Homo sapiens: one gene and its partners. The protein of the gene in region 2 interacts with the protein of the main gene of each other region in a pairwise test. Each region holds a gene or a part of one and is shown on either strand. Other genes may lie near its edges. The genes, in order: MCM10, TRIM37, PRC1 and DZIP1L.

The links.
Region 1: the proteins of TRIM37 (region 2) and MCM10 interact in a two-hybrid assay, tested with the Homo sapiens proteins (2 studies listed by BioGRID and IntAct).
Region 3: the proteins of TRIM37 (region 2) and PRC1 interact in binary tests that used the Homo sapiens proteins (3 or more experiments, as listed by UniProt).
Region 4: the proteins of TRIM37 (region 2) and DZIP1L interact in binary tests that used the Homo sapiens proteins (3 or more experiments, as listed by UniProt).

The regions. Positions count from the first base shown.
Region 1 is NC_000010.11:13,185,247-13,192,974, forward strand, and holds part of MCM10 (protein MCM10 homolog), read left to right. Parts: intron 1-917; coding exon 918-1,034; intron 1,035-3,634; coding exon 3,635-3,834; intron 3,835-6,052; coding exon 6,053-6,153; intron 6,154-7,008; coding exon 7,009-7,119; intron 7,120-7,204; coding exon 7,205-7,322; intron 7,323-7,728. UniProt on the Homo sapiens protein: Acts as a replication initiation factor that brings together the MCM2-7 helicase and the DNA polymerase alpha/primase complex in order to initiate DNA replication. Additionally, plays a role in preventing DNA damage during replication.
Region 2 is NC_000017.11:59,026,582-59,034,309, reverse strand, and holds part of TRIM37 (E3 ubiquitin-protein ligase TRIM37), read left to right. Parts: intron 1-2,219; coding exon 2,220-2,414; intron 2,415-5,586; coding exon 5,587-5,895; intron 5,896-7,728. UniProt on the Homo sapiens protein: E3 ubiquitin-protein ligase required to prevent centriole reduplication. Probably acts by ubiquitinating positive regulators of centriole reduplication.
Region 3 is NC_000015.10:90,977,508-90,984,561, reverse strand, and holds part of PRC1 (protein regulator of cytokinesis 1), read left to right. Parts: intron 1-421; coding exon 422-544; intron 545-783; exon of another isoform or gene 784-870; intron 871-2,471; exon of another isoform or gene 2,472-2,580; coding exon 2,581-2,814; intron 2,815-2,892; coding exon 2,893-3,063; intron 3,064-3,528; coding exon 3,529-3,678; intron 3,679-4,172; coding exon 4,173-4,320; intron 4,321-5,267; coding exon 5,268-5,404; intron 5,405-7,054. UniProt on the Homo sapiens protein: Key regulator of cytokinesis that cross-links antiparrallel microtubules at an average distance of 35 nM. Essential for controlling the spatiotemporal formation of the midzone and successful cytokinesis.
Region 4 is NC_000003.12:138,098,346-138,106,073, reverse strand, and holds part of DZIP1L (cilium assembly protein DZIP1L), read left to right. Parts: intron 1-2,021; coding exon of another isoform or gene 2,022-2,102; coding exon 2,103-2,603; intron 2,604-3,080; exon of another isoform or gene 3,081-4,838; intron 4,839-7,728. UniProt on the Homo sapiens protein: Involved in primary cilium formation. Probably acts as a transition zone protein required for localization of PKD1/PC1 and PKD2/PC2 to the ciliary membrane.

The DNA of each region.
Region 1 (7,728 bases), on a different chromosome or scaffold from region 2:
GGAGGCTACTTGGCTTATTGAGCTCAAGTGTTGTAAGAGATCTTGTCCTAGGAGGGGTGAGGACAAAGCCCGAGCTATTCAGGACAGTCCCTCTTGGTACAGTCTGTCCAAGAAGAGAATTGCAAACAAGAAGGGAGAGAGCTGAGTTCAGCAAGGCCCTTGAGGGACTTGTCTCCCTCCAGTCATCTCCATTCAAGGCAAGAAGTGAAGAGGAAGGGGGAGCCAGCCTCCTAACTCATTTTGTCAGGAAAGCAGAAGCTTCCCTACCAACTCCTGTTTATGTCTGAGCATCTAGAACTTATCACATAACCAATGCTAGCTCTAAGGAGTGCTGGGAGAACAGGGAACAGGATCTATGACCTGAGGCTGAGAAGTCAGCCAGCCTAGAGAAAATCAGGATTCCAATCGCAAAGATGAAGGAAAGGATGGAAAATGGGAAAAGAACTGAAGGTGCCTTCTGCATCCCTGTTCCTAAAACGGTTATAGAGCCCTGGCTTCAAATTCCTTTAGACCACTAAAACCTCTCTCCTTTTTGAGACGGCCTCACTCTGTTGCCCAGGCTGGAGTGCAGTGGTGTGATCACAGCTCATTTCAGCCTGGACTTCCCAAGCTCTAGTGATCCTCCCACTTCAGCCCCCCAAGTAACTGGGACTACATGCACGCACTACCATGCCTGGCTAATTTTTGTGGTTTTTTGTAGAGACAGGGTTTTGCCACATTGCCTAGGCTAGTCTCAAACTCTTGGCCTCAAGCGATCCACCTGCCTCGGCCTCCCAGAGTGCTAGGATTATAGGTGTGAGCCACTGCGCCTGGCAATAACCTTCTTAAATCAGCACCAACCATTCTTTTTTCTATTCCTGCTAATAAAAGGCCATAATTTTGTCCGCCTTTAACTCCTGCCCCACCTTTTCTTACAGGTGTGTTTATCTATCGATCATCCTCAGAAGGTCTTAATTATGGGTGAAGCTCTTGACCTGGGAACCTGTAAAGCCAAGAAGAAGAATGGAGAGCCGTGCACGCAGACTGTGAATTTGGTTGGTTTCAGCCTTGTTAGGATGGTTTCTGCTAAAGAAAAGAACAGTTAGGAATAAACTGTTGGTGCTTTAGCTGTGATGACCAGTTTGGAACTGAGTTTCCCACTTAAAGGAAGAGTCAAAATGAGAAAATTTAATGTGTGGTTAATAACTGCCAGTTTAAAAAAGTGAGGGCAGGGGAAAGGTGAGGGGATTTAACCTCTTAGGAAAGTGATCTTTTATCTGACCAAGAAGTTTAAGACAGAATTTTTGTTTGCCTTTAATTCTTGTAATTCCACAGAGCAAACATGATGAAATACAATGAAAATTGTATTTTAGCCTATATTTTAACTCCATTATACCTTTTCTTAGGGCTTTTTAAAAAATAATAGCTTCATTTAGGTATAATTCACATACCATGCAATTCACCCTTTTAAAGTAAGCAATTCAGGCCAGGTGTGGTGGCTCACTCTTGTAATCTCAGCACTTCGGGAGGTCGAGGCGGACAGATCATCTGAGATCAGGAGTTTGAGACTAGCCTGGCCACCATGGTGAAACCCCATCTCTACTAAAAATACAAAAATTAGGCGGTCATGGTGGTGGGCGCCTGTAGTTCCAGCTACTCAGGAGGCTGAGGCCAGAGAATCACTTGAACCTGGAAGGCAGAGGTTTCAGTGAGCTGAGATCGCACTATTATACTCCAGCCTGGGCGATAGAGTGAGATTCTGTCTCCAAAAAAGAATATAAATAAATAAAGTCAACAATTCAGTAATTTCTAGTACATTCACAGAGCTGTGCAACCATCACCACTGTGTAATTTCAGAACCCTTTCATTGCCCCAGAAAGAAACCCAGTACCCACTAGCAATCACTCCCCAGTCTCCTCTCCCCCAGCCCCTGGTAAGCACTAACCTACTTTCTGTCTCTATGGATTTGCCTCTTCTAGACATTTCATATAATGGAATCACAATATGTGGCCTTTTCTGTCTGGCTTCTTTTGCTTAGCATAATTTTTCTCACAATTGATCCGTGCTGTAGCATTTATCAACACTTTATTCCTTTTTGTGGGTAAATAATATTCCATTGTATGGATATACCATACGTTGTTTATTCTTTCATCAGTTGATACACGCTTGGGTTGTTGCCACATTTAGCTATTATGAATAATGCTGCTAAAACACTCACATACAAGTTTTTATGTGGATGTATGTTTTCCACTCCCTTGGGCATATACCTGGGAGTGGGATTGCTGGGTCAACATGGTAACTGTCCAGAGTTTGGAGGAACTGCCAGACTGGTTTCCCAAGTGGCCCACCAGCAATGGATGAACTTTCCAGTTTCTCCCTGTCCTCATCAGCACCTGTTACTCTATTTCTTTTTTGTTATAGCCATTGTAGTAGGTGTGAAGAGGTACTTCTTAGAGTTCTTTGAAAGGATTAAATGACAGGTTTTGGTTTAATCTTTTTTTATTCCCTTATTCCTTCCTATTAGATTAATTGGTGGACAGGAAAGAATAAGGTGGGAGACGGTTGGAAAATGAGGTTTCAGAGTGAAGTACCCAACAGATCTCCCCGTGAGAATTAGATTCTTAAAAATCCATTGTCTGGATGGGGCGGTGGCTCACACTTGTAATCCCTGCACTTTGGGTGGCCGAAGTGGGCCGATCACTTGAGGCCAGGAGTTCAAGACCAGCCTGGCCAACATGGTAAAACCCCGTCTCCAGTAAAAATACAAAAATTAGCTGGGCGTGGTTGTGCACACCTGTAATCCCAGCTACTTGGGAGGCTGAGGCAGAAGAATCACTTGAACCTAGGAGTTGGAGGTTGCAGTGGGCCAGGATCACGCCACTGCACTCCAGCCTGGGTGACAGAGCGAGACTCTGTCTCCAAAAAAAAATCCATTGTCGCCGTAACTACTGTTCACCCAGCAGAACAATGCTGCACCATCTCTCTTTGTTTCTTTCACTGAAAGGATAGCACTTGTCCGAGGATCAACCAGAGAAACAGCTAGAAAAACCTCGCTGGGAGCTGATTTTGTTTTTAAATTATTTTTTATTGGGTCAAAATTCACAATATACAGTTAATCATTTTAAAATACATATATAATTCAGTGATATTTAGTTGTGTAACCACCAGCTCCCTGGTTTCAGAATTCCATCACCCTGTAAAAACAATGGCACCATAAAGTCATCACTCCCATCCCCACTCCCTCCGTCTCCTGGTGACGTCTAATCTGCTTTCTGTCTCTATGGATTTGCCTCTTCTATAAAAACTTCCTTTTATATTAAATAACATAGGTCCTATATTAAATAACATAGGACCTTGTGTGTCTGACTTCTTTCACCTAACTTGTTTTCAAGGTTCATCCTAAAAGCTGATTTCCTTTGTAGAAAGAGGGCAAGGGGTATTTCACCAGAACAGTGCTTTCAGGGGACTCGAAGGGAAGAACTTCTTCCCCTCAGGGACTGAGCAGCCCTTCCACATTGGGAACGGTCGTGGAGGTCAGCAGGGAGGACTCTGCATGCGTCATGTTCCGGGAAGTGGGGAGAAGGAACTGTGTCTGCTCACTGCTGTTTCCCAGCCTGTTGCCCTCATCCTGATGCCACTGCTCTGCCTTTTGCAGCGTGACTGTGAGTACTGTCAGTACCATGTCCAGGCTCAGTACAAGAAGCTCAGCGCAAAGCGTGCGGATCTGCAGTCCACCTTCTCTGGAGGACGAATTCCAAAGAAGTTTGCCCGCAGAGGCACCAGCCTCAAAGAACGGCTGTGCCAAGATGGCTTTTACTACGGAGGGGTTTCTTCTGCCTCGTATGCAGCTTCAATGTAAGACGTTCTCGGGCTTCTTTTGGGCAGAGGATTTTGCTTATCAAAGACTAAACCTACTGGTTGTACCTTCCTGTAACCGTCATAGGATACTTGTACAGGTTTTATCTTTCATAACTCACTACTTGAAACAAGTTGGTTAAAGACCGCTTTTATTCCCAGGTAGAGAGAAAAACTTTCAGGAGAGAGAGAGATTGACTTATGTTGTGTTGGACTTTAAGAGAGCCCACTCTTCCTCTTCAACTTTTTTTTTTTTTTTTGAGACGGAGTCTTACTCTATCACCCAGGCTGGAGTGCAGTGGTGCAGTCTCAGCTCACTGCAACCTCCAAGTCCTGGGTTTAGGTGATTCTTCTGCCTCAGCCTCCTGAGTAGCTGGGACTACAGGCGCGTGCCACCACGCCCAGCTAATTTTTGCATTTTTGGTACAGACAGGGTTTCACCATGATGGCCAGGCTGGTCTCGAAATCCTGACCTCAGGTGATCTGCCTGCCTCGGCCTCCCAAAGTGCTGGGATTACAGGCATGAGCCACTGCTCCCAGCCCCTCTTTGACTTCTAATGTGAATAGTGCACCTTCATCAGGGCCATTAAAAATGTGTTAATTACAGTGTTAACACCCTTTTAATTATTTCTCGTATGACTATATGAGTGAGGCTACAGACCTCATGGAACCCAAATTTCATTCAGTGAGTGAATATACTATGAAGCTTCACATGGGGAGTGGGGCGATGCTGGGCAGGCATCCATGGCCCCTTGCCTGGGGGTTCAGAGTCACTACAGCCCCTGACGCTGTAATCCAGGGGTGTCCAATCTTTTGGCTTCCCTGGGCCCCTTTGGAAGAATTGTCTTGGACTACACATAAAATATATTAATGATAGCCTATAAGCTTAAAAAAAGAAAGAAAAGAAAAGAAAAATCTCTTAATGTTTTAAGAAAGTTTATGAATTTGTGTTGGGCCGCATTCAAAGCCATCCTGGGCTGCATGTGGCCCGCAGGCTATGGTTTGGATAAGCTTGTAATCAGTGGCCTCGTCACTACATTATATAAAGCATATCTGAGGACTTGGCACGAGGCAGCTACAGTTGGTCCAAGAATAAAACATAGATTTTTGTTCCCAATCCAGCAGGAATGGGGCAAGAGGACTCATTTCCTGTTTCTTTTTTAACAGTAAGCATGTTTTTGAGATTTAAAATTATTTCTGAATTTTTCCAATCTGCTAAAACAATACATGTATATTAGTCTTTTAAAAGAACATACAATCCAACCAATGGAGAAAATAAAAACCAACTATAATCCTATCACCTGAAAAACTGTTAGTTCTAGGCCAGGCACAGTGGCTTACACCTGTAATCCCAGCACTTCGGGAGGCCAAGGCAGGAGGATTGCTTAAGCCCAGGAATTTGAGACCCGCCTGAGCGACATGGCAAAACCCCATCTCTACAAAATGCAAAAAAAATTAGCTGGGCATGGTGGCACATGCCTGTAGTCCCAGCTGTTTGGGAGGCTGAGATGGGAGAATTGCTTGAGCCTGGGGAAGTTGAGGCTGCAGTGAGTCAGGATTGCTCCACTGTACTCCAGGCTGGACAACAGAGTGAGATCTTGTCTCAAAAAAAAAACCCCAAACTGTTAGTTCCTTGGTATATATACTCCTAGGTGTTGTGTTTCTTCATATGTGTACATTTTTAGTAATATAAAATGAGATCATATTGTTCCTATTCTTTGTATCCACTTTTTTTCCAGTGTAAAATAATTAATGTTTTTCTCATGTATTTTCAGTGGCTACATAGTGTTCTTTTGCATACTCTGCCTTAATTCATTTAAACAATTCCCTGTGGGTGAACGTTAATGGTGTTTCCAATGTATGACATTATAAACAAAGCTGCCATTAATATCCTAAATTTTTGCATAATCCTTAATTATTTTAAGATAAATATCCAGACTGCTGGATCAAAGCATTGGCTTTTTTTTTATTTCTTTTGCCAAATTTCCTTCCAGAATGGCCTCAAGTGGATTTGTAGGCTGCCTCTAGCTTTTCCTCTGTGACACAGTGCATAAACCAGTTATGCTATTGGGCCGTAACATTAAGAAAGCCTACTTAGATGGTGTTTTGAGAAACTTTGACGGTGTGTGTAATAAATGATGATATCTATGCCTTCTTTACCTCATCAGAGCATTGAGGCTTTAGTGATTCTCCTTTTGGGGGTGACTTGTCATTTCAGTGCAGCAGCTGTGGCTCCTAAGAAGAAGATTCAAACCACTCTGAGTAATCTGGTTGTTAAGGGCACAAACTTGATCATCCAGGAAACACGGCAAAAACTCGGTAACTTTGTTTTTCCATAAGAAATTTCTTTCTCCAGTTTAATTATGCAGCCTTAGGGATAAAAGACTACACATTGGGTACAGGGTACACTGCTCCGGTGATGGGTACACCAAAATCTCAGAAATCACCACTAAGAACTTATTCATGCACAAAAATAAATAAATAAGCAAGCAAGCAAGCAAGCAAGCAAGCAGTCTTTAGGGTTGAAAATGGATACAGCTCATACTCTTAAGTAATAAGAATCCAGTCATCACCTGTACTTAGTGAGTGGCGCGGTCTAACCTAAAGGAATCAAGCCAGGTTTGCAGGACCTTAAGGAAAAAAACAGCATATTGATTTTAGCTATGTCTTACCTTAGTATGCTTTTTAAAATTTCTTGGTGTATCTGGGTCCAACTCTTTACATCCAGCATTAGAATCAGCAGTATTATCTTCCTGGCCAAGCTTATTGGTTATCTTTTGTTAAAATGGGTCTTGGTCATAAAAACAAAAAAATTTTTAATAAAATAAAAACAAATAAAAACAAGTCTTGATCAGAGAATGCAGCCCCCATCCTGGGCTTGTGGTCAGGGACCCTTATCCTTAGCGGATATTCCAGAAACAGGGTATGGAATGACCCCCAGATTTAAGGGCTTAATATTCTAATCATTACTAGAAATAAAATATAGTCGAGATACCCTGCCATCCTATGAGTCTGATGATAGAGGTTAAGGATTCTTTTCTTTCCTCTTGGGATTCCGTCTTCTTCGTTTACGTATGACTAAAATTACAAGTGCAGAGTTTAGAAAGTGGTATGTCATATGACCTCAAACCATCTGAATGTGAATCCTCTAAAGCTGGTGTTGACCTGGCACAGGAATACCCCAGAAGAGCCTGTCTTGCTCTGAGGAGTTCAAGGAACTGATGGACCTGCCGACGTGTGGAGCCAGGAACTTAAAACAACATTTAGCCAAAGCCACAGCTTCAGGTACCATCAGCTGCATGGCCACACGTGTGTCCCTGTGTTCCCTCAGCCTCCCAGGGCACCCCCTCAGTCTGGGCTTCTGTTTCAGGGATTATGGGGAGCCCAAAACCAGCCATCAAGTCCATCTCGGCCTCAGCACTCTTGAAGCAACAGAAGCAGCGGATGTTGGAGATGAGGAGAAGGAAATCAGAAGAAATACAGAAGCGGTAAGAGGAGCAGATTTAATATTCCCCGCTTGGGTCATCCATCTCAGGCGTCCTCAGAACGTCTTCATCGATTTCCAGAATGTGACTTCAGGTTTCGGTTGGCTGCGTTTTAACTCTGAAAGTTTAAAATAGTTTTCCCATAACCTGAATAGCATTTAAGGCTGTATTATTTCTTACACTGGTGACTCCCAACACCAAATGGTACAGGTTAGAGTCGTTATCACCATGGAAAAGGGAAAGGAGTGAAGTGTATGTAAAGAGGGTTTTTGTGAAGGGGGAGAGCGTAGGTTCACATGCTGGCTGTCATTTTCTCTCTCTCTCTCTTTTTTTTTTCTGAGACGGGTTTTCACTCTGTCACCCCAGCTGAAGTGCAATGCTGCAGTGTCGGCTCACTGCAACCTCCATG
Region 2 (7,728 bases):
GAGAAACAGGAGACACCGCTTTCTCTACTGTAAGTGCCTTTAACATGGAAGAATGAGCAACTTACATTTTTAAAGGAGAATCAGATATTAGGGCAATAGATTCCATTCACTGGGCTACTGGACTTAACTATACATAAGAACGATCTGAGTAGCTTTTTGGGAAAAAGTCCTGGATCTCACCTCCGTATCCTTTTTTTTTTTTTGAGATGGAGTCTCACTCTGTCAACCAGACTAGAGTGCAGTGGTGTGATCTTGGCTCACTGTAACCTCTGCCTCCCAGGTTCAAGCAATTCTCCTGCCTCAGCCTCCCGAGTAGCTGGGATTACAGGTGCCTGCCACCACACCTGGCTATTCTTTTGTATTTTGGTTTCACCATGTTGGCAAGGCTGGTCTCTAACTCTTGACCTCAGGTGATCTGCACACCTTGGCCTCCCAAAGTGCTGGGATAACAGGCGTGAGCCACTGCACCCAGCTTCTCACCCCAGTATTCTTGTTCAGTGTATCTAGGATGTAATTTTAAAAACTCCTTCAGCTGACTGACATACAACCCAATTTGGGAATTCCTTAGTAAAAGAAAAGAGGTAAAAACAGTTTTCAGCTGGGTGCGGTGGCTCACACCTGTAATCCCAGCACTTTGGGAGGCTGAGGCGGGCGGATCACTAGGTTAGGAGATCCAGACCATCCTAACACGGTGAAACCCCGTATCTACTGAAAATACAGGTGTGGTGGTGCATGCCTGTAGTCCCCACTACGGGAGGCTGAGGCAGGAGAATCGCTTGAACCCAGGAGGCGGAGGTTGCCGTGAGTGGAGATCGGGCCGCTGCACTCCAGCCTGGGCAACAGTGAGACTGTGTCTCAAAACACAACAAAGAACAGTTTTCAATGTGAAGGGGAAATCGTTTTCTGTTATTTAATAGGAATTGCAGTAATACAGAGGCTGGGAAGAAAAACTGTCAGTGAGATAATAATCCTTAGAAGAGGAGGCAGAAGTGGGAGACAGTGAGAACATGAGGATGTGAAAAGCATAAATTATTAATTGGCTTGAAGCTTCTGAACAATGGAACTTTCCTCCTAAGTTATATCCTGCTGGATCTCTCTGAAATACTCATGGGTAGTTGGAACCTGACTTTTTAATATTTTATATTATCTACTTTCCTGCGTGTAGCATTGTTTTAAAATGTTCTATCTCTTTAAAATATATTTAAACAGCTTTATTGAAGAAGGTCAGTTTTAAGCAACATTTCCATATCTGGTATTTGTTATGCATTATACTAGGTGCTAGAGAAAAGTCAGATGCTTTTCTTGGCTTAAAGAGCATAGTCCAATATAGGGGTATAGGCATAATATCTGCCTACAGATGTCTGTAATGTGCATCAGTCATTAACATGACAGTCCAAAAACTTCAAATTGTACCCCATTATTTAATCAAAGTAGAAAAAGTCTACCAAACTGTCATGACCTATACATTTTACTGTCCAGAGACTTGGGGGAGATTTCTATTTTGGTGTCTAATTCTTTGTAATCTGTTATACTATGGGAATTTGTCTTCTTTTATCTAAAACCAGGTGGTCATGGGATATAATCTCCTTCTCCTTACCCTTACCTCTCATCCCCCCAATTGTGCACATCGTACACATTGTCATCTGTTTTTTTCTAGGGCTCAGGATGGGGTTGAGGCTTGCTTCTGAATTCTAAGTACTAATGAGGCCACCACTCAATCACTGTGCTAATGTACAACTGTCTGGTTCCTTCTTTCTTTTTTTTTTTTTTTTTTTTTTGAGACGGAGTCTCGCTCTGTCGCCCAGGCCGGACTGCGGACTGCAGTGGCGCAATCTCGGCTCACTGCAAGCTCCGCTTCCCGGGTTCACGCCATTCTCCTGCCTCAGCCTCCCGAGTAGCTGGGACTACAGGCGCCCGCCACCGCGCCCGGCTAATTTTTTGTATTTTTAGTAGAGACGGGGTTTCACCTTGTTAGCCAGGATGGTCTCGATCTCCTGACCTCATGATCCACCCGCCTCGGCCTCCCAAAGTGCTGGGATTACAGGCGTGAGCCACCGCGCCCGGCCCTGGTTCCTTCTTTCTGCTTCTTATCATGAACCTGAACTCCTAAGAGATAGGTCCATAGACAAGTATTCATATAATGTTAACCAGTTCATTTTTTCATTTAAGTATAGCTAAGTTTGTGCATATATATATCATTTTCTACGCCTCTTTTGCAGGTAGTAGCCATGGTTATGTGGGTTCCAGTAGTAGAATATCAAGAAGAACACATTTATGCTCCGCTGCTACCAGTAGTTTACTAGACATTGATCCATTAATTTTAATACATTTGTTGGACCTTAAGGACCGGAGCAGTATAGAAAATTTGTGGGGCTTACAGCCTCGCCCACCTGCTTCACTTCTGCAGCCCACAGGTAAAATAATAACAATGATAATTTCCTTTTTTTCTGTGGTTCTCTAAAAGAACTCTTGGATTTTCATTTAAGTATTTCAGCTATGTGTGGAACATGGTGTATTTCTGTGTTTTTCATTGTATACCATAAAAATGACATTTATGTCAACCAAATTAGTTTTTAAATTACCGTTCAAAGGTGATTTGTGCAAAAACAAAGTAAAAATGCCTGCAAGAAGGTTTTTTGTGACTTGCTACTCAGATTTTGCCTGACAGTTTGATCCATATGAAATACGGTTATCTTCTTTATGAATGGACTTTTTTTGGTCAGGCTTCATGAATTCCCTTACTTCCAAGTGGAACTATATCTAAATTGAACGTAGAAAAAGGTGACTTACTCATTCTTTGATGTTCAGTAGCTTAAAAATGTATGCCAGTTGGCAGCACTGTTTTCTGTGCAAAGGTTATTTGTTAAATAGAAATTACATTTGTGTTACTATAATAAAATGGAGATTTGTATAGTCAAATATGGGCTTTTTTAAACTCTCGGGGATAGAGTCATTTTGGACAACTAAGTATTTGCCTTTAAAAGCTACATTTTAAAAACCATTTTTGTTGGAATGCTTTCTAAAGTATAGTCAGTATATTCAAAAATATATGCCAAATATTTTTCTACCTTCTTAAACAATAGTATTATATACATCAAATCAATGATTTAGAACTCTGATTTTGATGTAGTTTTAAGGCAAGATAACTCATTTTTCAATCAAAGTCCAAGGCAGAACCTCTGTGTAAATAACAGAGAAATAGAGCTCTTCTACTGGTGTAGGGACATGGAGCCCAGATTATTTAGGCTTCTTCTTTCCTAAGAGCCAGATATACTTCCTGAAAGTCTGGATCCTCAGCTTAAAAGACTATCTTCAGGTTATGAAACAGTTGCCTTTTATGTGTGCGCCAAGTATGCTTTATATAAAGTTTTACTTAAATGTTAAGTGTTGTTTGCAAAGGCCCAGTGAAACAGACAGGTTCTGATTCTGTAGGTAGATATGTAAGTTGGTTTAACCTTTTTGAAGGACAATTTTGTAGTAGTTTAAAAATATCTATATCCTTTAAACTTGTAATTTCACTTTGAGGAGTATATTCCAAAGAGAAAACAAGCAGATGTTTAAAAATATTCAACAATACAGTTATAGCTGAATAAATTACAGTGTAACCATGCAATGGTATATTTTATAGACAAGTAAAATCGTGTTTTTGAAAATAATCAGTATCATTGGGAAAAATGCAAACTAAATAGTAAGATTTCTGTGTAAAACTAGTTTTCTGTGTAAAAACAATACAAATGAGATGATCTGAATTTCAAATTTAGGTGATAAAATGCTGGCAATAATGAGGGCGGGGAAAATAGTAGAAAGAAAAAGCAAGTTTTGGATTTAAACATCTTGAGTTGGGCATAACAGTGTGACATCAAATTAGAAAGGACCAGTAGACAGCTAAAAATTAAGAACTGGGGCTGGGCGCAGTGGCTCACGCCTGTAATCTCAACACTTGGGGAGGCTGAGGCGGGTGGATCACCTGAGGTCAGGAGTTCGAGACCAGCCTAGCCAACATGGTGAAACCCTGTCTCTACTAAAAATACAAAAAATTAGCCGGCCATTGTGGCAGGTGCCTGTAATCCCAGCTACCTGGGAAGCTGAGGCAGGAGAATGGCTTAAACCTGGGAGTCGGAGGTTGCAGTGAGCCGAGATCGTGCCATTGCACTCCAGCCTGGGCAACGAGTGAAACTCCATGAAAAAAAAAAATGAACTGGAATACAGACAGTTATTTTTCTGGAGGTGATACTGGATAATTAAAACCAAGGGTGTGAGATTGCAAAGGAGTTTTAAGAATATTTTAAAAGAAGAGAGCCAGGAACATAATCCTGATGAATATCTGTTTTTACTGAGTGTCAGGAAGATGAGCCAGATAAAGAGCTTTTAGAAAGGAGAAAAAATACTCATGGAAGCCAAATGAAAATACCTTTCAGTGAAGGGATGTTAATAAAAGCTAGTGTGCAGAAATATATGACTTTCTTTTTATTGAAAAGGCTTGCTTGGGTCATTTTTTGTTTGATTGATTGTTTGTTTGTTTTTGAGACAGAGTCTCACTCTGTTGCCCAGGCTGGAGTGCTCTACAATTTTTTGTAGAGACAGGTTTCACCATGTTGGCCAGGTTTGTCTCAAAACTCCTGAGCTCAAGTGATCCACCTGCCTCGGCCTCCCAAAGTGTGCTGGGATTATAGGCGTGAGCCACTGCACGTGGCCTGCTTGGGCTTTGATGTTTATTTTTTTCTGTGTATTTATTTAACACATATTTAGTGAACATTTGTCAGATTAACTTCATGTTCTTAACCATGTAAAGGAGTACTGTAAAAGGTATCAGGTAATCTAGTTGAACCAGATTTTAAGGTACATATAGTGGTAAGTAGAACTAGAGTCATGTTGGGTCCATTCTATGAAAGGACTTGCATGCTAGCCGGAGGAATTTATTCATACTAGGCATGGAGAGCTATTGTTTTATTTTAGAAGTGGTTAGATTCAAACCGTATTTCAGAAAGCTGACAGTTCTGAGAAAATTATCAGAAATGGAAGTTCTAATAAAAAAATTTTTTTTTGTACAGATAGGGTGTCACTATGCTCCCCTGGCTGATCTTGAACTTCTGGCCTCAAGCGATTCTCTCACCTCAGCCTCCTGAAGTGCTGGGATTACAGGCATAAGCCACTGCACCTGGCCAGAAATATGTATTTTTAATATAATGTTATATATGGCAGATTTGACAAAGTATTTGGTTTCTAGATTTTTCTTTGTCTTTTTTTTCAATTATAAACATAATAAAAGCTCTGTAGAAAGTTTCAGAAAAGTGGAGAAGTTTAAAGAAGAAAGCACAAGGCAGTAGGGCAGCTTTTAAACTTTTAGAATTAAATGTGTAATTCGAACTTGAGTATGATGTGACTCAGATTCTAACTCTGAAGGTGTGAATAAGGTAGGATTCTTTATCTTTATTTTCATTAATGGAATTTAGTGCATGTTTTATTGTTGATACCACGTAAAGCACGCTAGCTTATTTTACACATCAAATTTGCATATATTCATGGTACAAATGATTTCATTAATATTAACGTTTATGTTAACATGACTTGTCAATTTCTCTGAAGCATCATATTCTCGAAAAGATAAAGACCAAAGGAAGCAACAGGCAATGTGGCGAGTGCCCTCTGATTTAAAGATGCTAAAAAGACTCAAAACTCAAATGGCCGAAGTTCGATGTATGAAAACTGATGTAAAGAATACACTTTCAGAAATAAAAAGCAGCAGTGCTGCTTCTGGAGACATGCAGACAAGCCTTTTTTCTGCTGACCAGGCAGCTCTGGCTGCATGTGGAACTGAAAACTCTGGCAGATTGCAGGATTTGGGAATGGAACTCCTGGCAAAGTCATCAGTTGCCAATTGTTACATACGAAACTGTAAGTAATATGTTCCCAGTGTCATTTCTCCACACGTTATTTGGGAAACTAGATGACTGGTTTTTTCAAAAGAATAATATTTAAATACCACTCTTCCAGTGAGTTAAGACTACAAATTACATGTGACTTTTTTCTTCATCCAAAATTGATTCCGTATATTTTTACTATATAATAGAACTAACATTTCTTGATTGCTTACTCTGTATTTGGCAATAAACAAGACAAAATTCTTAACATCATAGATCTTGTATTCTAGTAGTGGGAATCAGACATTAAAAAGTGTAGACAAGTAAGTAAAGATCATTTCAGTGGGTAAAAGGTGCTGTGAAGGAAACAACCGAGGAGTGGGATGGGAGGAGCAGATGAGACATGTTCTATTGGGGTAGTCAGAGAAAGTCTCTGTGAGGAGGCAGCACTTGACCTGAGACCTGAAGTTTAGGAAGGTGGCAGCTATTTATAGATCTAGGGCAAGCAGTGTTCTGGGTAAACAGAACAGAAACTGCAAAGTCACTGACACAGGATTTATTTTGCGTATTTGAAGGATTGAAGGAAGACCAGTATGGCAAAGAAAGCAGAGAGAGGAGACTAGCAGGAGACGAAGTCAGAGAGAGGTAGGCAGAATTTAGATCAGGGAGAGTCTTGCAAAACCTCAAAAAGGAGTTCGAGTTTTATTATGATGTAAGGAGGAAGCCTCTAGAGAATAAAAATAAGGGGTGTTTATAATCTGATTTACACTTTACAAAGATGACTTTGCTTGTTGTGTGGAGAAGGGTCTGAAAAGGGTTGAGGACAGGAATTGTGAGACCAGTAACAGCCTATTACATTATCTTGTGTGAAATATGATGGCATTTTCTGGAGTTACAATAATGGATAGAGGGGCTTGTTCACAGTCTAGCAGCCTTTCTTGACTGAGGTTCCCATCTTTCTTAGTTCTCTTAAGGATGTGCTATTCTATTCTAGATGCATAGGAGGGAAGTTAATCCAGTCTTAGATCAGCAGGGCTGAGTTCTTTCTCAGAACCATAGTTGAAAAAGCCTAAATAGAATTTTAGGAAAGTTCTATTTAGAAAGAAACTAAGAATTATGATTAAGTTTTGGCCTAAGCAACTTAATAGGCAGTGGTATCATTTATTGAGAAGCAAATCAGATAAGAAGCAGGTTATGGGGCTTGGGAGGAGGTAAGGGCAGAAAGTTGGGTATTCTTTTTTAAACATGTTTAATTTGAGACACCTGCTAGATATCCTAGTAAAATGTCATAGACACGTGAATGGTACACAACTTTGAAACTCAGAGAGAGGTCAATGCTGGATATAAACAGTTGGGAGTCAATAGTATTTTATATTATTTAAATCCAGAAGACTGAATAGGGTCAAGTTTGGAGGGAGTTTCAATGGAGAAGCAAAATTTTTGACTCTGTGGCACTTAAACATTTAAAGATCTGATAAATAGGAGAGGCCAGCAAAGGAAATTGAAAGAGCAATCATTAAGGTAGGAGAAAAACTAGAAGGGATAATATCTCAAAAATCAAAAATAATGCATCTCAAGAAGTAGAGTGGTTACCCCTGTGTTAAGTGTGTTAAGTATCACTGAGAAGTGTCAAGGCAAGAGGCCAAGTGGCCTTTTTAAGAACTATTCCCATGGAGTAGTGTAGCAGAAGAGTGAATGAGGTCAGGGACCAGAGCACAAATGCACAACTTCTTTAAAAGAAGTTTCACAATGAAGTGGGTAGAAGCTGGAGGAGGTGCGGGGTCAATAGTTTCTTGTTGGCAGGGGTGTCCTTTTTTGTGTCCTCTCCAATGTCTTTCATCTGTGAATTAAATCCATTTTAAAATTG
Region 3 (7,054 bases), on a different chromosome or scaffold from region 2:
TTGGTTTTGAAGTCCCTTCTTGAAATTTGAGGAGGCTGGGTGCGGTGGCTCATGCCTGTAATCCCAGCACTTTGGGAGGCCGAGGCGCATGGATTGCTTGAGGTCAGGAGTTCAAGACCAGCCTGATCAACATGGTGAACCTCCGTCTCTACTAAAAATAAAAAAATTAGCCGGGCATGGTGGTGAGCACCTGTAATCCCAGCTACTCAAGAGGCTGAGACAGGAGAATCTATTGAACCCGGAAGGTAGAGGTTGCAGTGAGCCGAAAGCACGCCATTGCACTCCAGCCTGGGCAACAGAGCGAGACTCCATCTCAAAGAAAAAAAGAAAAAGAAAAAAGAAATTTGAGGAGTTTGGTATTGGTGTTGGGAGTTTTTTTCCTCCATTGCCCCAAACTTATGGACTGTTTTCCCTCTTGTAGGAACTCCTGGATATGATGATTGCTGAAGAGGAAAGCCTGAAGGAAAGACTCATCAAAAGCATATCCGTCTGTCAGAAAGAGCTGAACACTCTGTGCAGCGAGTTACATGTTGAGCCATTTCAGGTCCGTGGCAGCCCACAGGGTCTCTGGTGATCTGTCTGGGGCCTGAGACTTAGAAAGCAACGTTGACTTGGGCCTGCAGATGGAAGGCTTCCTCGTAGGGATGGAGCTAGACGTAAGAAGTGGGGAAAACATGCTGTGTAGTTAATTAGGCCCAGCAGAGTAATTCTCACCTCTGTAGAGAGTTGCCCTGGTAAGAGGTGAAGCAACTAATAGATGATCAAAAAGAAGCTGCTGCTTACCATAGTTTTGCTTTGTAGGGAATATGAATTTTTTTTTATAAACGCTGAGAAAAAGGTAGGCATAGATGGTGCTGCAGTGTTCTTTCTCTGAAAGAAAATGAAAACAGGAACAAAAGTAACTAATGATTAAAAGGAATACTATGAAAACACCAACCTTTGTGGGTTTTATCATACCCAGAAGCTGCATACCACTGAACCAGCCAAAATGGCTTCTTCAGAAGAAATGTCTCAAAAGCTGGAATACTGGGAGTGCATAGTCCATTTCAGAGCATGCCATGACATCCATCTGGGTATGGAGCTGAGAAGTGGCTATATTGTGGTCCACTGCAAGTCAGGGACTTGAGTGAGGACACAGCAAGGATGAAATGAATAACAGATGGGGTCCTGAAAATCTCTGCTTAGAACCAGTAAAAATAGTGCCAGGATCATAAAAATTAGGACAGATGTGGAGCTTGGAAAGACAATGAGTACACCCATAAGGTTCTCAGGTCCCTCTTCCTGTTACAGGAAGACCTGCCTGGATATCTATTTGGAGTTAGCTTAGGAGGGAGATCACCTTTAAAGGGCAAAGGATAATTCATACTTGGTAGCCAAGAGCAATCAGGCAGAAGAGAACATGAAGTGGAGCTTCCTGGAGTCAACATAAATGTCATAAATATAATTGATTTTGGACATAGTTTCTCTTTCTTTTTTCACATTCCATGTGAAATTGGGCGAGAAGTGAGGTGTACAACGATCATCTCCCTTAAGTTACCTGATGTTCCTAGTTCACAATGTTAAATGAAATTGTGTAAATGTATAGGACATTTAAGAAAAATGTATATGTCCTATAAAAAAATGCCACTTTTTTTTTTCTTGTTAACCAGTTAGGAGTAGAGCAGGGACTACCAGATGGGTTTTTGTTGCTAAGGTGAGACGATGTTCATAGGATTAGCAGGATGAGTATTTAGATATGAGCTAGGCATGCCACCCTATAGCTAACCCAAAGCAAGCTTTCCAGCCAATTTACACTGTTATTTCTTTATTTATTTAGAGACAGAGTCTCGCTGTGTTGTCCAGGCAGGAGTGCAATGGTGTGGTCTCGGCTCACTGCAACCTCCGCCTCCCGGGTTCAAGCGATTTTCCTGCCGTAGCCTCCCGAGTAGCTGGGATTACAGGTGTCCGCCACCATGCCTGGCTAATTTTTCTATTTTTAGTAAAGACGGGGTTTCACCATGTTGGCCAGGTTGGTCTCAAACTGCTGACCTCGTGATCTGCCCACCTTGGCCTCCCGAAGTGCTGGGATTATAGGCGTGAGCCACCGTGCCTGGCTGCCAATTTACACATTCTATAAAAGTGCCTGGTGCCTGGAGTAGTCTAATCATAGAGACAAAAGGTAGAATGGTGGTTGCCAGGCTTGGAGAAGGGAAAAAATGGGGACTTATTTGTTTGAGTATGAAGTTTCACTTTTGCAAGAGGAAATGAGTTTTGGAGGTGATGGTTATGATTGCACAACAATATGACTGTACTTAATACCAATGAACTGTACACGTAATGGTTAAGATGGTAAATTTTATGTTATATGTGTTCTACCACAAGTTTTAAAATTGGGGGGAAAAGTACCCTGGTACTTACTCACTTTTCCTCACTGGGACCTTCCTTAGGAGACCCTCTTTGTGCCATATTCTGTTGACCATGAGTTGACTTACTTGTTAGTTTAACTGAAAGTCTGTCATCCACGCCTTCTTATGTTGTCCTTCTCTTCCTCTGAAGGAATTCACTTGGAATCTTATAACAGTGGTACGTTGTCTTATTCAGGAAGAAGGAGAGACGACCATCTTGCAACTAGAAAAAGATTTGCGCACCCAAGTGGAATTGATGCGAAAACAGAAAAAGGAGAGAAAACAGGAACTGAAGCTACTTCAAGAGCAAGATCAAGAACTGTGCGAAATTCTTTGTATGCCCCACTATGATATTGACAGTGCCTCAGTGCCCAGCTTAGAAGAGCTGAACCAGTTCAGGCAACATGTGACAACTTTGAGGGAAACAAAGGTACACTGCCTACATTTGTTCTTCCTAAAAGTCACTTTGGTTTTCCTCTAGGTATCTTGTAATTGCTTTGTTTTAAAGGCTTCTAGGCGTGAGGAGTTTGTCAGTATAAAGAGACAGATCATACTGTGTATGGAAGCATTAGACCACACCCCAGACACAAGCTTTGAAAGAGATGTGGTGTGTGAAGACGAAGATGCCTTTTGTTTGTCTTTGGAGAATATTGCAACACTACAAAAGTTGCTACGGCAGGTACTGTCTTCTCAAATTATGCCCTAGGATCTCCGTAGTATATAGCAGTTTGAACAAAACTGACAGCTGTTTCTTCAGTCTTAAATAAGGAGACAATGTAAGGTAAGAGAATGAGGGAAGCTAAGGATAGTAATATATGATATACAACCTTGATTTTTGTTTAACAGTTAAAAAACCTTTATATGGCTCCAAGAAAATGAAATTATAGATGAAATAATATTAGTCATTTGAATTAGACTAGTGTTTAATTAAAATTTTTTTCAGTTCTAAATTTGAATGCTAATTCTTGGGGTCTGAGATCCCGACAGCCTTACAGCTCGTGTTTAGGAGGCATGAAAACATGCTACTTTGAACTCTCATGAAAGTGCCTCCTCCTCTACTCCAGACATTTCTTTGCGGGAGGCTAGAGGGCTAGCCTCTGTGCTGCTGCTTTGCCGTGAGTGACACTGGCTTTCTATGCTGTAGCTGGAAATGCAGAAATCACAAAATGAAGCAGTGTGTGAGGGGCTGCGTACTCAAATCCGAGAGCTCTGGGACAGGTTGCAAATACCTGAAGAAGAAAGAGAAGCTGTGGCCACCATTATGTCTGGGTCAAAGGCCAAGGTCCGGAAAGCGGTAAGAAACCCAGTGGGTACTGGGTCAGCAGTCTTCTCTTAGCACTTCTGTGTTAGTCATAAAGACTGTTGTTGATTTGGCCAGGCTCAGTGGTTCATGCCTCTAATCCCAGCACTTTGGGAGGCCGAGGCAGGTGAATCATTTGAGGTCAGGAGTTCGAGACCAGCCTGGACAACATGGCGAAACCCTGTATATACTAGCCAGGTGGTAGTGGCGTGCGCCTGTAATCCCAGCTACTTGGGAGGCTGAGACAGGAGAATCGCTTGAGCCTGGGAGGTGGAGGGTTGCAGTGAGCCAGAATCGCGCCACTGCACTCCTGTCTGGGCGAGAGAGTGAGACCCTGTCTCAAAAAAAAAAAAAAAAAAAAAAAAGTGTTGATTTATAATACCTTTGTGGCTTTGCATTATAATTTTACTTAAAAGGGGGGGATCTTTTGCAAACCTGAGTGAATATAAAACTATGGCAGCCACCCTTAACAAGTTTCTTTCTTTCAGCTGCAATTAGAAGTGGATCGGTTGGAAGAACTGAAAATGCAAAACATGAAGAAAGTGATTGAGGCAATTCGAGTGGAGCTGGTTCAGTACTGGGACCAGTGCTTTTATAGCCAGGAGCAGAGACAAGCTTTTGCCCCTTTCTGTGCTGGTTAGTACAAGAGTGAGGTCTTTGGTTTGTTTGTTTGGAGACAGGTCTTACTCTGTTGCCCAGCCTAGTCTCAAGTTCCTAGGCTCAAACAATCCTCCCAACTTGGCCTCCCAAAGTGTTGGGCCACCACACCCAGCCAAAAGTGGGGTCTTCATGTGGCCTGCTCACTAGTTTTTAAGACATCCAGACATTCAACAGGAAGTATATCCTTTTCTGAACAGATAAAGCCACCTTTTCAAGACATTTAGCATAATTGCCATTCCTGTATGAAAAAGCATTTGCAAATTTTATTGGGAAATATTGGTCTCTTGCTTTCTGAAGCAATATGTCACTGTAGCCTCTAGCTGTGAAGCTTAAGTTTTTATCAGGTGCTTACTTTTTGCCAGGTGCAGTGTCAAACCCTTAATATTATTTCACATCCTCATGTCAAGAGGTGAGGATACTAAAGCACATAAATGCTGAGTCATTTAACCCAGAGACATATAATGGTAAATGCCAGAGCCTACGTTTGAGCCAAAAGGAGCTTGACTCCTGGAGTCCAGTTGAATGCTAGTCTGAACTGCACTGAATATAAAGATGGAGCTACCCCAACTAAATTCAACAGATGTTTTTGCACATTTTCTGTGATCCACCCCTCTACTGGCTGGGCAAGACAGAAAAGCAGAATATGAAAGAAACCGAAGACAAGGCAAGAGATGATGCAGATTTTTGACAACATTATTTTAGTCTCTATCCTAGTCTCTTAGGCCCTACTCCCCCAGGCTGATTGTGACAAAGCTGGTTTTTATTAACCACTATATATCTATTACACACACACACACGCCTCTTCCTGTATCAGTTTACTATAAGGAAAGAATCTATTTCCATTTTAGGGAATCGGGGATTCGTAAAATTGGATACTAAATACTAGAGGAATTGTTTTAAACTACTGGGCCTATATTTTGCAGAGGACTACACAGAAAGTCTGCTCCAGCTCCACGATGCTGAGATTGTGCGGTTAAAAAACTACTATGAAGTTCACAAGGAACTCTTTGAAGGTGTCCAGAAGTGGGAAGAAACCTGGAGGCTTTTCTTAGAGTTTGAGGTATTGTCCTAGTTTTTGTGTTTTTAACTGTTAAGAAAGCATGCCATGTACGGAATCAATCCAGTTAGCTTTGTTCTTTGCCAGGCTTTTGATACCCCATCTTTATCATTAAGTCTCTCTGAATTTCTGCTGACCGCCTCTGTTTGATAAGCTTATCTACAGGGTCTTTTAAGAGAAAAGCCCAAAATTAATGGCTTAAATAAGGTAGGCATTTCTTGCATGAATGAGGTTCAGAGGTGGGCAGTGTGGGGCAGGCATGGCAGATCTGCACAGTGAGCAGGACCCCAGGCTTCTCCGGCTCAGGGCGCTCCCCCACCACTAAGGGTGGACCTCATCTTCAGGGCCAGGATGGCTGCTAGAGCTCCCACCCTGATGGCACTTTTTTTTTTTTTTTTTTTTTTTTTGAGGTGGAGTTTCGCTCTTGTTGCCCAGGCTGGAGTGCAATGGTGCGATCTTGGCTCACCACAACCTCCACCTCACAGGTTGAAGTGATTCTCCTACCTCAGCCTCCCAAGTAGCTGGGATTACAGGCATGCACCACCACACCCGGCTAATTTTTTGTATTTTTAGTAGAGATGGGGTTTCACCATGTTGGCCAGGCTGGTCTCAAACTCCTGACTTCAGCTGATCTGCCCACCTCGGCCTCCCACAGTGCTGGGATCACAGGCGTGAGCCACCACGCCTGGCCTGATGGCACATGTCATACAGTGTGGTGGAGGAAGGAACAAAGAAGGCATTGCCCCTCACTCCTTCAAGAGCTCTTCCCGGCTCTCTTCACAGCACCGTGGCTCACATGCTCTGTCACCTGCTGGTGAGGCTGGGTGAATTGCTGCCCCAGGTAAATTCTGGTTCTGTTAAACTAAGGAAGGAGAGAAGAATGGATGTTGGGGCAGGCAACTAACATTCTCTACCATTCCAACTTTTGCTATACTTAGAATATTGCATGGGTATTGATTCCTTTTCTTCTGATAGGCAACATGGTGGGTTCCTTCAGAGCATTTTAGAGCTCAGGGACTGTGGTAAAGCAAGTGAGGTGTGTAGGGCACAGATGGAAGGAGACCTTGTTCTCGGGTTCATGCTGGCCCTGTTAGAGCTCAGAGGGCCTTCAGAGAATCTGAATTCAACTCCTTCAAGTTTACAGGCAGCAAACTAGGACTCAGAAGTGGAGAGAACTATGGGATATCTTACAGCTGCTTAAGAACAGATGTCTTTGTCCTCAGTTATTCTTTACTTCTGGTTACAACAAGAAGAGTAAACATAAATAAGGAGGCCAGGTGTGTGTGGTGGCTCACGCCTGTAATCCCAGCACTTTGGAAGGCCGAGGCAGGCAGATCAGGAGGTCAAGAGATCGAGACCATCTTGGCTAACACAGTGAAACCCCGTCTCTACTAAAAAAATACAAAAAAATTAGCCGGGCATGGTGGCGGGCACTTGTAGTCCCAGCTACTCGGGAGGCTGAGGCAGGAGAATGGCGTGAACCCGGGAGGCAGAGCTTGCAGTGAGCCAAGATCGCACCACTGCACTCCAGCCTGGGCGACAGAGCGAGACTCTGTCTCAGAAAAAAAAAAAAAAAAAAAAAAACGTAAATAAGGAGCTAAGGCAGCAACCTTTGTTGACATGCCAATATTTAAGAAGAAAACAAGAAATGAA
Region 4 (7,728 bases), on a different chromosome or scaffold from region 2:
TACCTCTTGTTGCCTTAGTCAGATTCTCACTTCTGCAAGAACTGAAATTCTATGTTTTATTTTAAAAAATAATAAAAGTGATAGAAGATGATGATAAGAAGTTTGAATAGTACAGAGAGGTAGAAAGTGAAAAATAAAAGTCCTGTAATCTCTATTTTCACTTCCCAGAGGCAGCCATTGCTAATAGCTTCTTGTCTATCTTTCCAGAAACAGTCTATGCTTATGAAATAATATACATAAGTGAATCATACATATGAATTATAAATGAGCATATTTTATTCATTATAAAACTAATTATAACAAATATGAGTCTTTCATATGTATGTGTGTGTATGGGTGTATATATATGTTGACTCTCCATATCTGTGGATCTGCATCCACAGATTCAACAAACTGCGGATCAAAAATATTTGAAAAAAAAAGGATAGTTTCTTCTGTACTGAACATGTACAGAGTTTTTTTCTTGTCATTATTCCTAAATAATTAAGTATAACAGCTATTTTTATAGCATTTACATTGTATTAGGTATTATAAATAATCTAGAGATGATTTAGAGTGTGTGCGAGAATGTGTATAGGTTATATGCAAATACTACACCATTTTGTATAAGCAATTTGAGCATCTGTAGATTTTGGTATCTGAGGAGGGTCCTGGAACCAATCCCTCATGGACACTGACAGACGACTGAATATGTATATATATATATATTTATATAAAATGATCATCATTGGTCTGTGAAGGCCTATTTACCTGTCTATCTGACCATCACCACCCACACACCATCCATCCATTTATTTATCCCCATTCCACACTCCCATTTCCCTCCCTCCTCTCATAGACAACCATTCTAATATGATATATATCTTTCACTTTGGTGAGTTATTAAATATGATTATATTAATATGTCATTAAAACAGAAATAGAGGTATATATGCCTATTTTGTGTGTGTTTACATATATATATATTGGAGATTATCATTTCATATCAGTACATGTAAGTCTGCTTTATACCAATCAATAGCTGCATAATATTCCATTGCATAGAGATACATTGTACTTTGCTTTCTTCTACTTTTTCTTTTACTTTGCTTTTATAAAAGATGCTACAATGACAATTTTTTCACAAGTACCTTTGTACATATGAGTTTGTAGCATAATTATAATTTTTAGTAGTGGAATGTTCAAAATTCCCATTGATATTGTCAAATTACTTTTCAGAGAGAACAGTTCATATGCTCACCAAGAGTTTAGAGAGTAGAATCTGAGTCTTGGCAAAGAAACTAGAGATCTTTTTACTTAACTATTAAGTTAAAAAAAAGCCCATGATGGATTGAGCACCATGTGGCAGAGACTCCGTAACTCTCTTAAGCCCCTCCTGACAGGGGTGGACATCATTTCACTCACATTCCAGGAGAGAGAACTTAGTCATATGATCACACGTTATTGCTGGAGAAGCTGGGAAAGGTAGTTCACTCGTGTTCCATTAGAATCCTGTAGTTATATGAGAAAGAGAAGACAGGGTGGACATTAGGAACCTTGGTCACTCACAGCAAGTTGTCGGACTTTATCTTGAGATAAAAATAGGGTTGCAGAAGGACCCATTTGTAAATTTGATAGTCACCTGCTGACAAAGGCCTTTGCCAGGCATTCCTGCAGTGGAGGTGGGCTTTGCAGAGGGGGCTCACTGAGGACCTGCTATGTGCCAGGCACTAGGCTGGGTGCTTCACTTGCCTCATTCCTCACCACAGGCCTGCACAGTGGGACCCATGTTCCTCCTTAGACACAGGAGGCTTAAAGATGTGCAGGGACTTGCCCAAGGCAGAGCATTCGAATCCACATCTGTGTGATTGCAAAGCCCATGTTTTCTTTCCACAGCTCTGGCCATGTCAGCACACACCATGAATGCTACAGCTGCTGCACAGACACCTCACTTTGCCCCGCTTAGGCCCTTGCTGGCCAGATATACAGTAGGTGCAGCCACACACACCTCACCTAACTTGGACTCTCTTCTTATTTTCCAGGCCTTCTCTCAGCTCCTTGGCCTACTGCCGTGGCCTTGGTGCCCCCCTCCTCTGGTGGTCAGCTCAGGGCTTCCTCTGCCCATGCAGTCCCCAGCTGCCACTGCTGAGGGCCTCAGTGGCCCCCTCTTTGGGGCCTACACGTTCCCCACCTTCAAGTTTCAGCCTCGCCATGATAGCATGGACTGGAGACGCATTAGCACCCTGGATGTAGACCGCGTGGCCCGGGAACTGGATGTGGCCACTCTGCAGGAGAATATTGCTGGCATCACCTTCTGCAACTTGGACCGGGAGGTGTGCAGCCGCTGTGGGCAGCCTGTGGACCCGGCACTGCTCAAGGTGCTGCGCCTGGCGCAGCTCATCATTGAGTACCTGCTGCACTGCCAGGATTGCCTGAGTGCCAGTGTTGCCCAGCTGGAGGCACGGCTGCAGACCAGCCTGGGCCAGCAGCAGCGTGGTCAGCAGGAGCTGGGACGCCAGGCTGACGAGCTCAAGGGTGTGCGGGAGGAGAGCCGCCGGCGTCGCAAGATGATCAGCACCCTGCAGCAGCTGCTAATGCAGACAGGCACCCACAGCTACCACACGGTGAGGAATCTCCACCAGGCAGGGAGAGTGGGAGGGCTGTGTGCCCCAGCCACTGGGGCAACTGTTGCCACTGGGCAGCACTGCTGGGACCTTAAGGCTGCTGGGGGGCTGTTCTCACTGGTTAGGAGCAGATTTCAGAGATGCTGCTCATGGCCAGAGAGCCTGGGGGTGTCTCATTAGGTTCTACAGTGTGTGTGTGTGTGTATGTGTGTGTAGATTGTACATGTGTGGGAGGTGTGCGTGTTTATGGAGAGGGTACATGTCTAGTGTATGTATATGCATGAATGTATGGCGAGTGTGTGTGTTTGTAAATGATGTGAACATGTGTGTGTGTTTAATGTGTGTGTGTGTGTGTGAATACTTGAAGGGTACCTCTGTGTGTATGTAGGGTGTGTGGTGTGTAATGTGTGCTTGTACTATGTTATAAAGGATACAACTCTGGAGCATGTATAAAAAGGTGTATTAATAGTGTTAGTGACCAAGAAGCAGCTTCTCTGCTCCTTCTGGAATCTCCGCCTGGTTCAGCCCACCTGCCTCCACTCCTGCTTCCACCATGTTCATCAGGGTGACCCAGAAGTCCTACAAGGTGCCCACCTCTGGCCCCCAGGTCTTCAGCAGCTGCTTCTACATGAGTGGGCCCAGTGCTGGCATCAGCTCCTTGAGCTTCTCCTGAGTGGGCAGCAGCAGCTTCCGGGGTGACCTGGGCGGAGGCTATGGTGGGGCCAGTGGCATGGGAGGCATCACTGCCATCACTGTCAACCAGAGCCTGCTGAGCCCCCTTAACCTGGAGGTGGACCCCAACATTCAGGCCATGTGCACCCAGGAGAAGGAGCAGATCAAGACCCTCAACAACAAGTTTGCCTCCTTCATAGACAAGGTATGGTTCCTGGAGCAGCAGAACAAGATGCTGGAGACCAACTGGAGCCTCCTGCAGCAGCAGAAGACGGCTCAGAGTTAACATGGACAACATGTTCAGAGCTACATCAACAACCTTAGGCAGCAGCTGGAGACTCTGGGCCAGGAGAAGCTGAAGCTGAAGGCAGAGCTTGGCAACATGCAGGGGCTGGGTGGAGGACTTCGAGAACAAGTATGAGGATGAGATCAATAAGCATACAAAGATGGAGAATAAATTTGCCTTCATCGAGAAAGATGTGGATGAAGCTTACATGAATAAGGTAGAGCTGGAGTCTCGCCTGGAAGGGCTGACTGACGAGATCAACTTCCTCAGGCAGCTGTATGAAGAGGAGATCCGGGAGCTGCAGTCCCAGATCTCGGACACGCCTGTGGTGCTGTCCATGGACAACAGTCACTCCCTGGACATGGACAGCATCATCGCTGAGGTCAAGGCACAGTACAAGGAGATCGCCAACTGCAGCTGGGCTGAGGCTGAGAGCATGTACCAGATCAAGTATGAGGAGCTGCAGATGCTGGCTGGGAAGCATGGAGATGACCTGCAGCATACAAAGACTGAGATCTCTGAGATGAACCAGAACATCAGCCGGCTCCAGGCTGAGATTGAGGGCCTCAAAGGCCAGAGGGCATCGCAGATGCCGAGCAACGTGGGGAGCTGGCCATTAAGGATGCCAACGCCAAGCTGTCCGAGCTGGAGGGCGCCCTGCAGCGGGCCAAGCAGGACATGGAGCGGCAGCTGCGTGAGTATCAGGAGCTGATGAATGTCAAGCTGGCCCTGGACATCAAGATCGCCACCTATAGGAAGCTGCTGGAGGGCAAGGAAAGCCGGCTGGAGTCTGAGATGCAGAACACAAGTATCCATACAAAGACCACCAGCGGCTATGCAGGTGGTCTGAGCTCGGCCTATGGGGGCCTCACAAGCCCTGGCCTCAGCTACGGCCTGGGCTCCAGCTTTGGCTCTGGCGCAGGCTCCAGCTCCTTCAGCCGCACCAGCTCCACCAGGGCCACTGTGGTTGTGAAGAAGATAGAGACTTGCGATGGGAAGCTGGTGTCCGAGTCCTCTGACGTCCTGCCCAAGTGAACAGCTGTGGCAGCCCCTCCCAGCCTGCCCCTCCTGCGGCTGCCCCAGAGCCCAGCGGGGGAGGCTGCTGTGCAGGGTAGCACAGGGAACGGGAGACCCACCTGAGGCTCAGCCCTAGCCCTCAACCCACCTGCGGGGGAGTTTACTGCCTAGGGACCCCCCTTGCCCATGCCTCCAGCTACAAAACAATTCAATTGCTTTTTTTTTTTGGTCCAAAATAAAACCTCAGCTATCTCTGCCAAAAAAAAAAAATAGTGTTTGTGTGTGTGTGAATGAATGAAGGGTATATATGTGTGTAAGAGTGTGTGTTTGTACTTATGGAGAGTGTATGTAAGGATGAGTATGTAGAAGAAGGATGTATATGTGTCTAAGGGTGTATTTATAGAGGGTGTGAGTGCGTGCATATTTATATATGATGGAGGATTTGTATGTGTATGTAGAGGAGTGTGTTGTGTAAAGGTGTGTGTGAGGGGTTTGTGTGTGCATGTGTTGAATCTACGTGTGACAAGGGATTGGTGGAGCCAGGCCTATTCTGGAATACTGACTCCATTATTCAACCAAGTGACAGTTCATTTCCCAAAGCAACATGGAGCGTTTGCATGTGTCTCCATGGAAGTATGGATTAGGGACATTTGCCCTTTAATAAAAATTGTCATGGTGGCTAGGCCCTGTGCCAGGCTCTGAGGATGTGGGCACAAATCATGCTGGTTCAGGTTTTTAAGACATTCATAGTTTACGGATGGATGGGTTACCTATTTCTGCTTATAACACTTCTGACACCAAATGTGTGTTTTTCTTCCTCACACCAACCAATTCTCCAATGCCACCTGGGTGCCCTTCAATTCAATTCTGACACTATCTACCTGGAGTTAGCATCAGATCCCATGAGTTAAGGGATCAGTCCCACAAGACTGGCCCCACTTCAGATACCTGGGCCTCCTGTACTTCTGACTAACTGGCTACAAATTGAGGGTTCCCATAACTCCATCTTGAGGTTCAATAATTTGCTAGAATGGCTCACAGAACTCAGGAAGAAGACACTTTATTACTAGTTTATTATAAGGATAGAAGTCAGAACAGTCAAATGGAAGAGATGCACTTGAGGACAAGAGAGGACAAGGTATGGGAGAAGGGACTCGGAACTTCCCTGCCCTTTCTGAGTGTGACATCTCCTAGCACCTTAGTGTTTACCAATCTGGAAATTCTCTAAATCCCATCATTTAGGGGTTTTATAAGATTCCACCAAGCATGCATAATTGATTAAATCATTGGCCATTGCTTAGTAGTCCAGCCCCTCTTCCCTCCCTGGAGGCTGGAGGGTGGGGCTGAAAGTTCCAACCCTCTACCCATGCCTTGGTCTTTCTGGTGACCAACCCCCATCCTGGGGGGATTACCTGAGCCCGGCATCTTAATCGTAATGAGAGCTGATGAGCCAAAAAAAAAAAAAGGATGGGGGTTGGTCACCAGAAAGTCATTTGCGGGGTGGGGCAGAAGGTGCCCAGCCAACAGTCCTTTCATTAGCATACAAAAAACACTGTCTTAGTAAGTTTAGTGTTGCAATAAAGGAATACCGAAGCTGGATAATTTATAAAGAAAAGAGGTTATTTGACTCACAGTTCTGCTGGCTGGAAGGTTCAAGACTGGGCACCTGATGAGGGCCTCTGGCTGCTTTCACTCCTGGTGGAAGGTGAAGGGGAGCTGGCCTGTCCAGAGCTCATTGCAAGAGAGGAAGTAAGGGGAGAGGAATGCCAGGCTCTTTCTAACAACCAGCTCTGTCAAACTAATAAGAATGAGAACTCCCTCACCCCCAAGGGAGGGCATTAATCTATATATGAGGGATCTGCCCCATGACCCAGATACCTCCCACTGGGCCCCACCTCTCAACACTGCCACACTGGAGATTAAATTTCAACATGAGATTTGGAAGGGACAAACATTCAAACAATAGTAGACACTCTTATTACTCTGGAGATTCCAAGGATCTCAGAATCTCTAAGACCAAATATTATTACAAAAGGTGCTTTACTGCCCTTATCACTCTGAAGATTGTAAGTTAGGTGTGTCCAATCTTTTGGCTTCCTTGGGCCACATTGGAAGAAGAAGAATTGTTTTGGGCCACACATAAAATACACTAACATTAATGATAGCTGATGAGCTAAAAAAAAAAATTCCTAAAAAAATCTCATAATGTAAGTTTACAAATTTGTGTTGGACTGCATTCAGAGCTGTTCTGGGCCACATGTGGCCTATTGGCTGCAGGTTGAACCAGCTTGTTGTAAGTGTTTTAGGACCTCCTTGCCAGAAACTAGGAAGGAACAAAGACCAAATATACATTCTTTTTTATTTTTTGAGACAGGGTCTCACTCTGTCATCCAGGCTGCAGTCTGATCATGGCTCACCACAGCCTTAACCTCCCAGGCTCAGGTGATCCTCCCACCTCAGCCTCCTGAGTAGTTAGGACTACAGTCACCTACCACCATGTTTGTCTAATTTTTTTAGAGACAGGGTTTCTCCAGGTTGCCCGGGCTGGTCTCGAACTCCTGGGCTCAAGTGATCCGCCCACCTCAGCCTCCCAAAGTTCTAGGATTTTAAGTGTGAGCCACTGTGCCCAGCCTACATTCTTATTGTATCACAATATCACAGTGGGACAGAAGGAATCGTTATGATATATTATTAATTGATAACAAATTGATATAATTGATATGATGTTTATGATTAAAAGGGTCAGAACCCTTTTAGTAGTAAGTCCTGTGGACACACCTGGTTGCTAGGAAGGTTGGGACATAGAGTGTTTATTCTCATTGGCCACAGACTTACTATTACCAAGGAAGAAAGGGAAAATGGGTATTGGGGGACAACTGGCAATTCCTGTCACAATTGTCTGCAAAGATAGCAAATAATCTGCCTATGGATTAACTAACAATGGCAGCCTCCAAAGCTGTGTTGAGAAGAATTCTGAAATTTTACAGTGAGAAGACGATGTGATAGATTGCTTATGTCTAAAATGTCTTAGGAGAGGGATGTGGAATTACAGATGCTGTTTATTTGCTAACCTCTCTGCCTCTGGTGTTTCTCCACCCTGGGATGGGACCTAGACATTGGCATATTTTAAAAACTTTTTATTATGGAAAA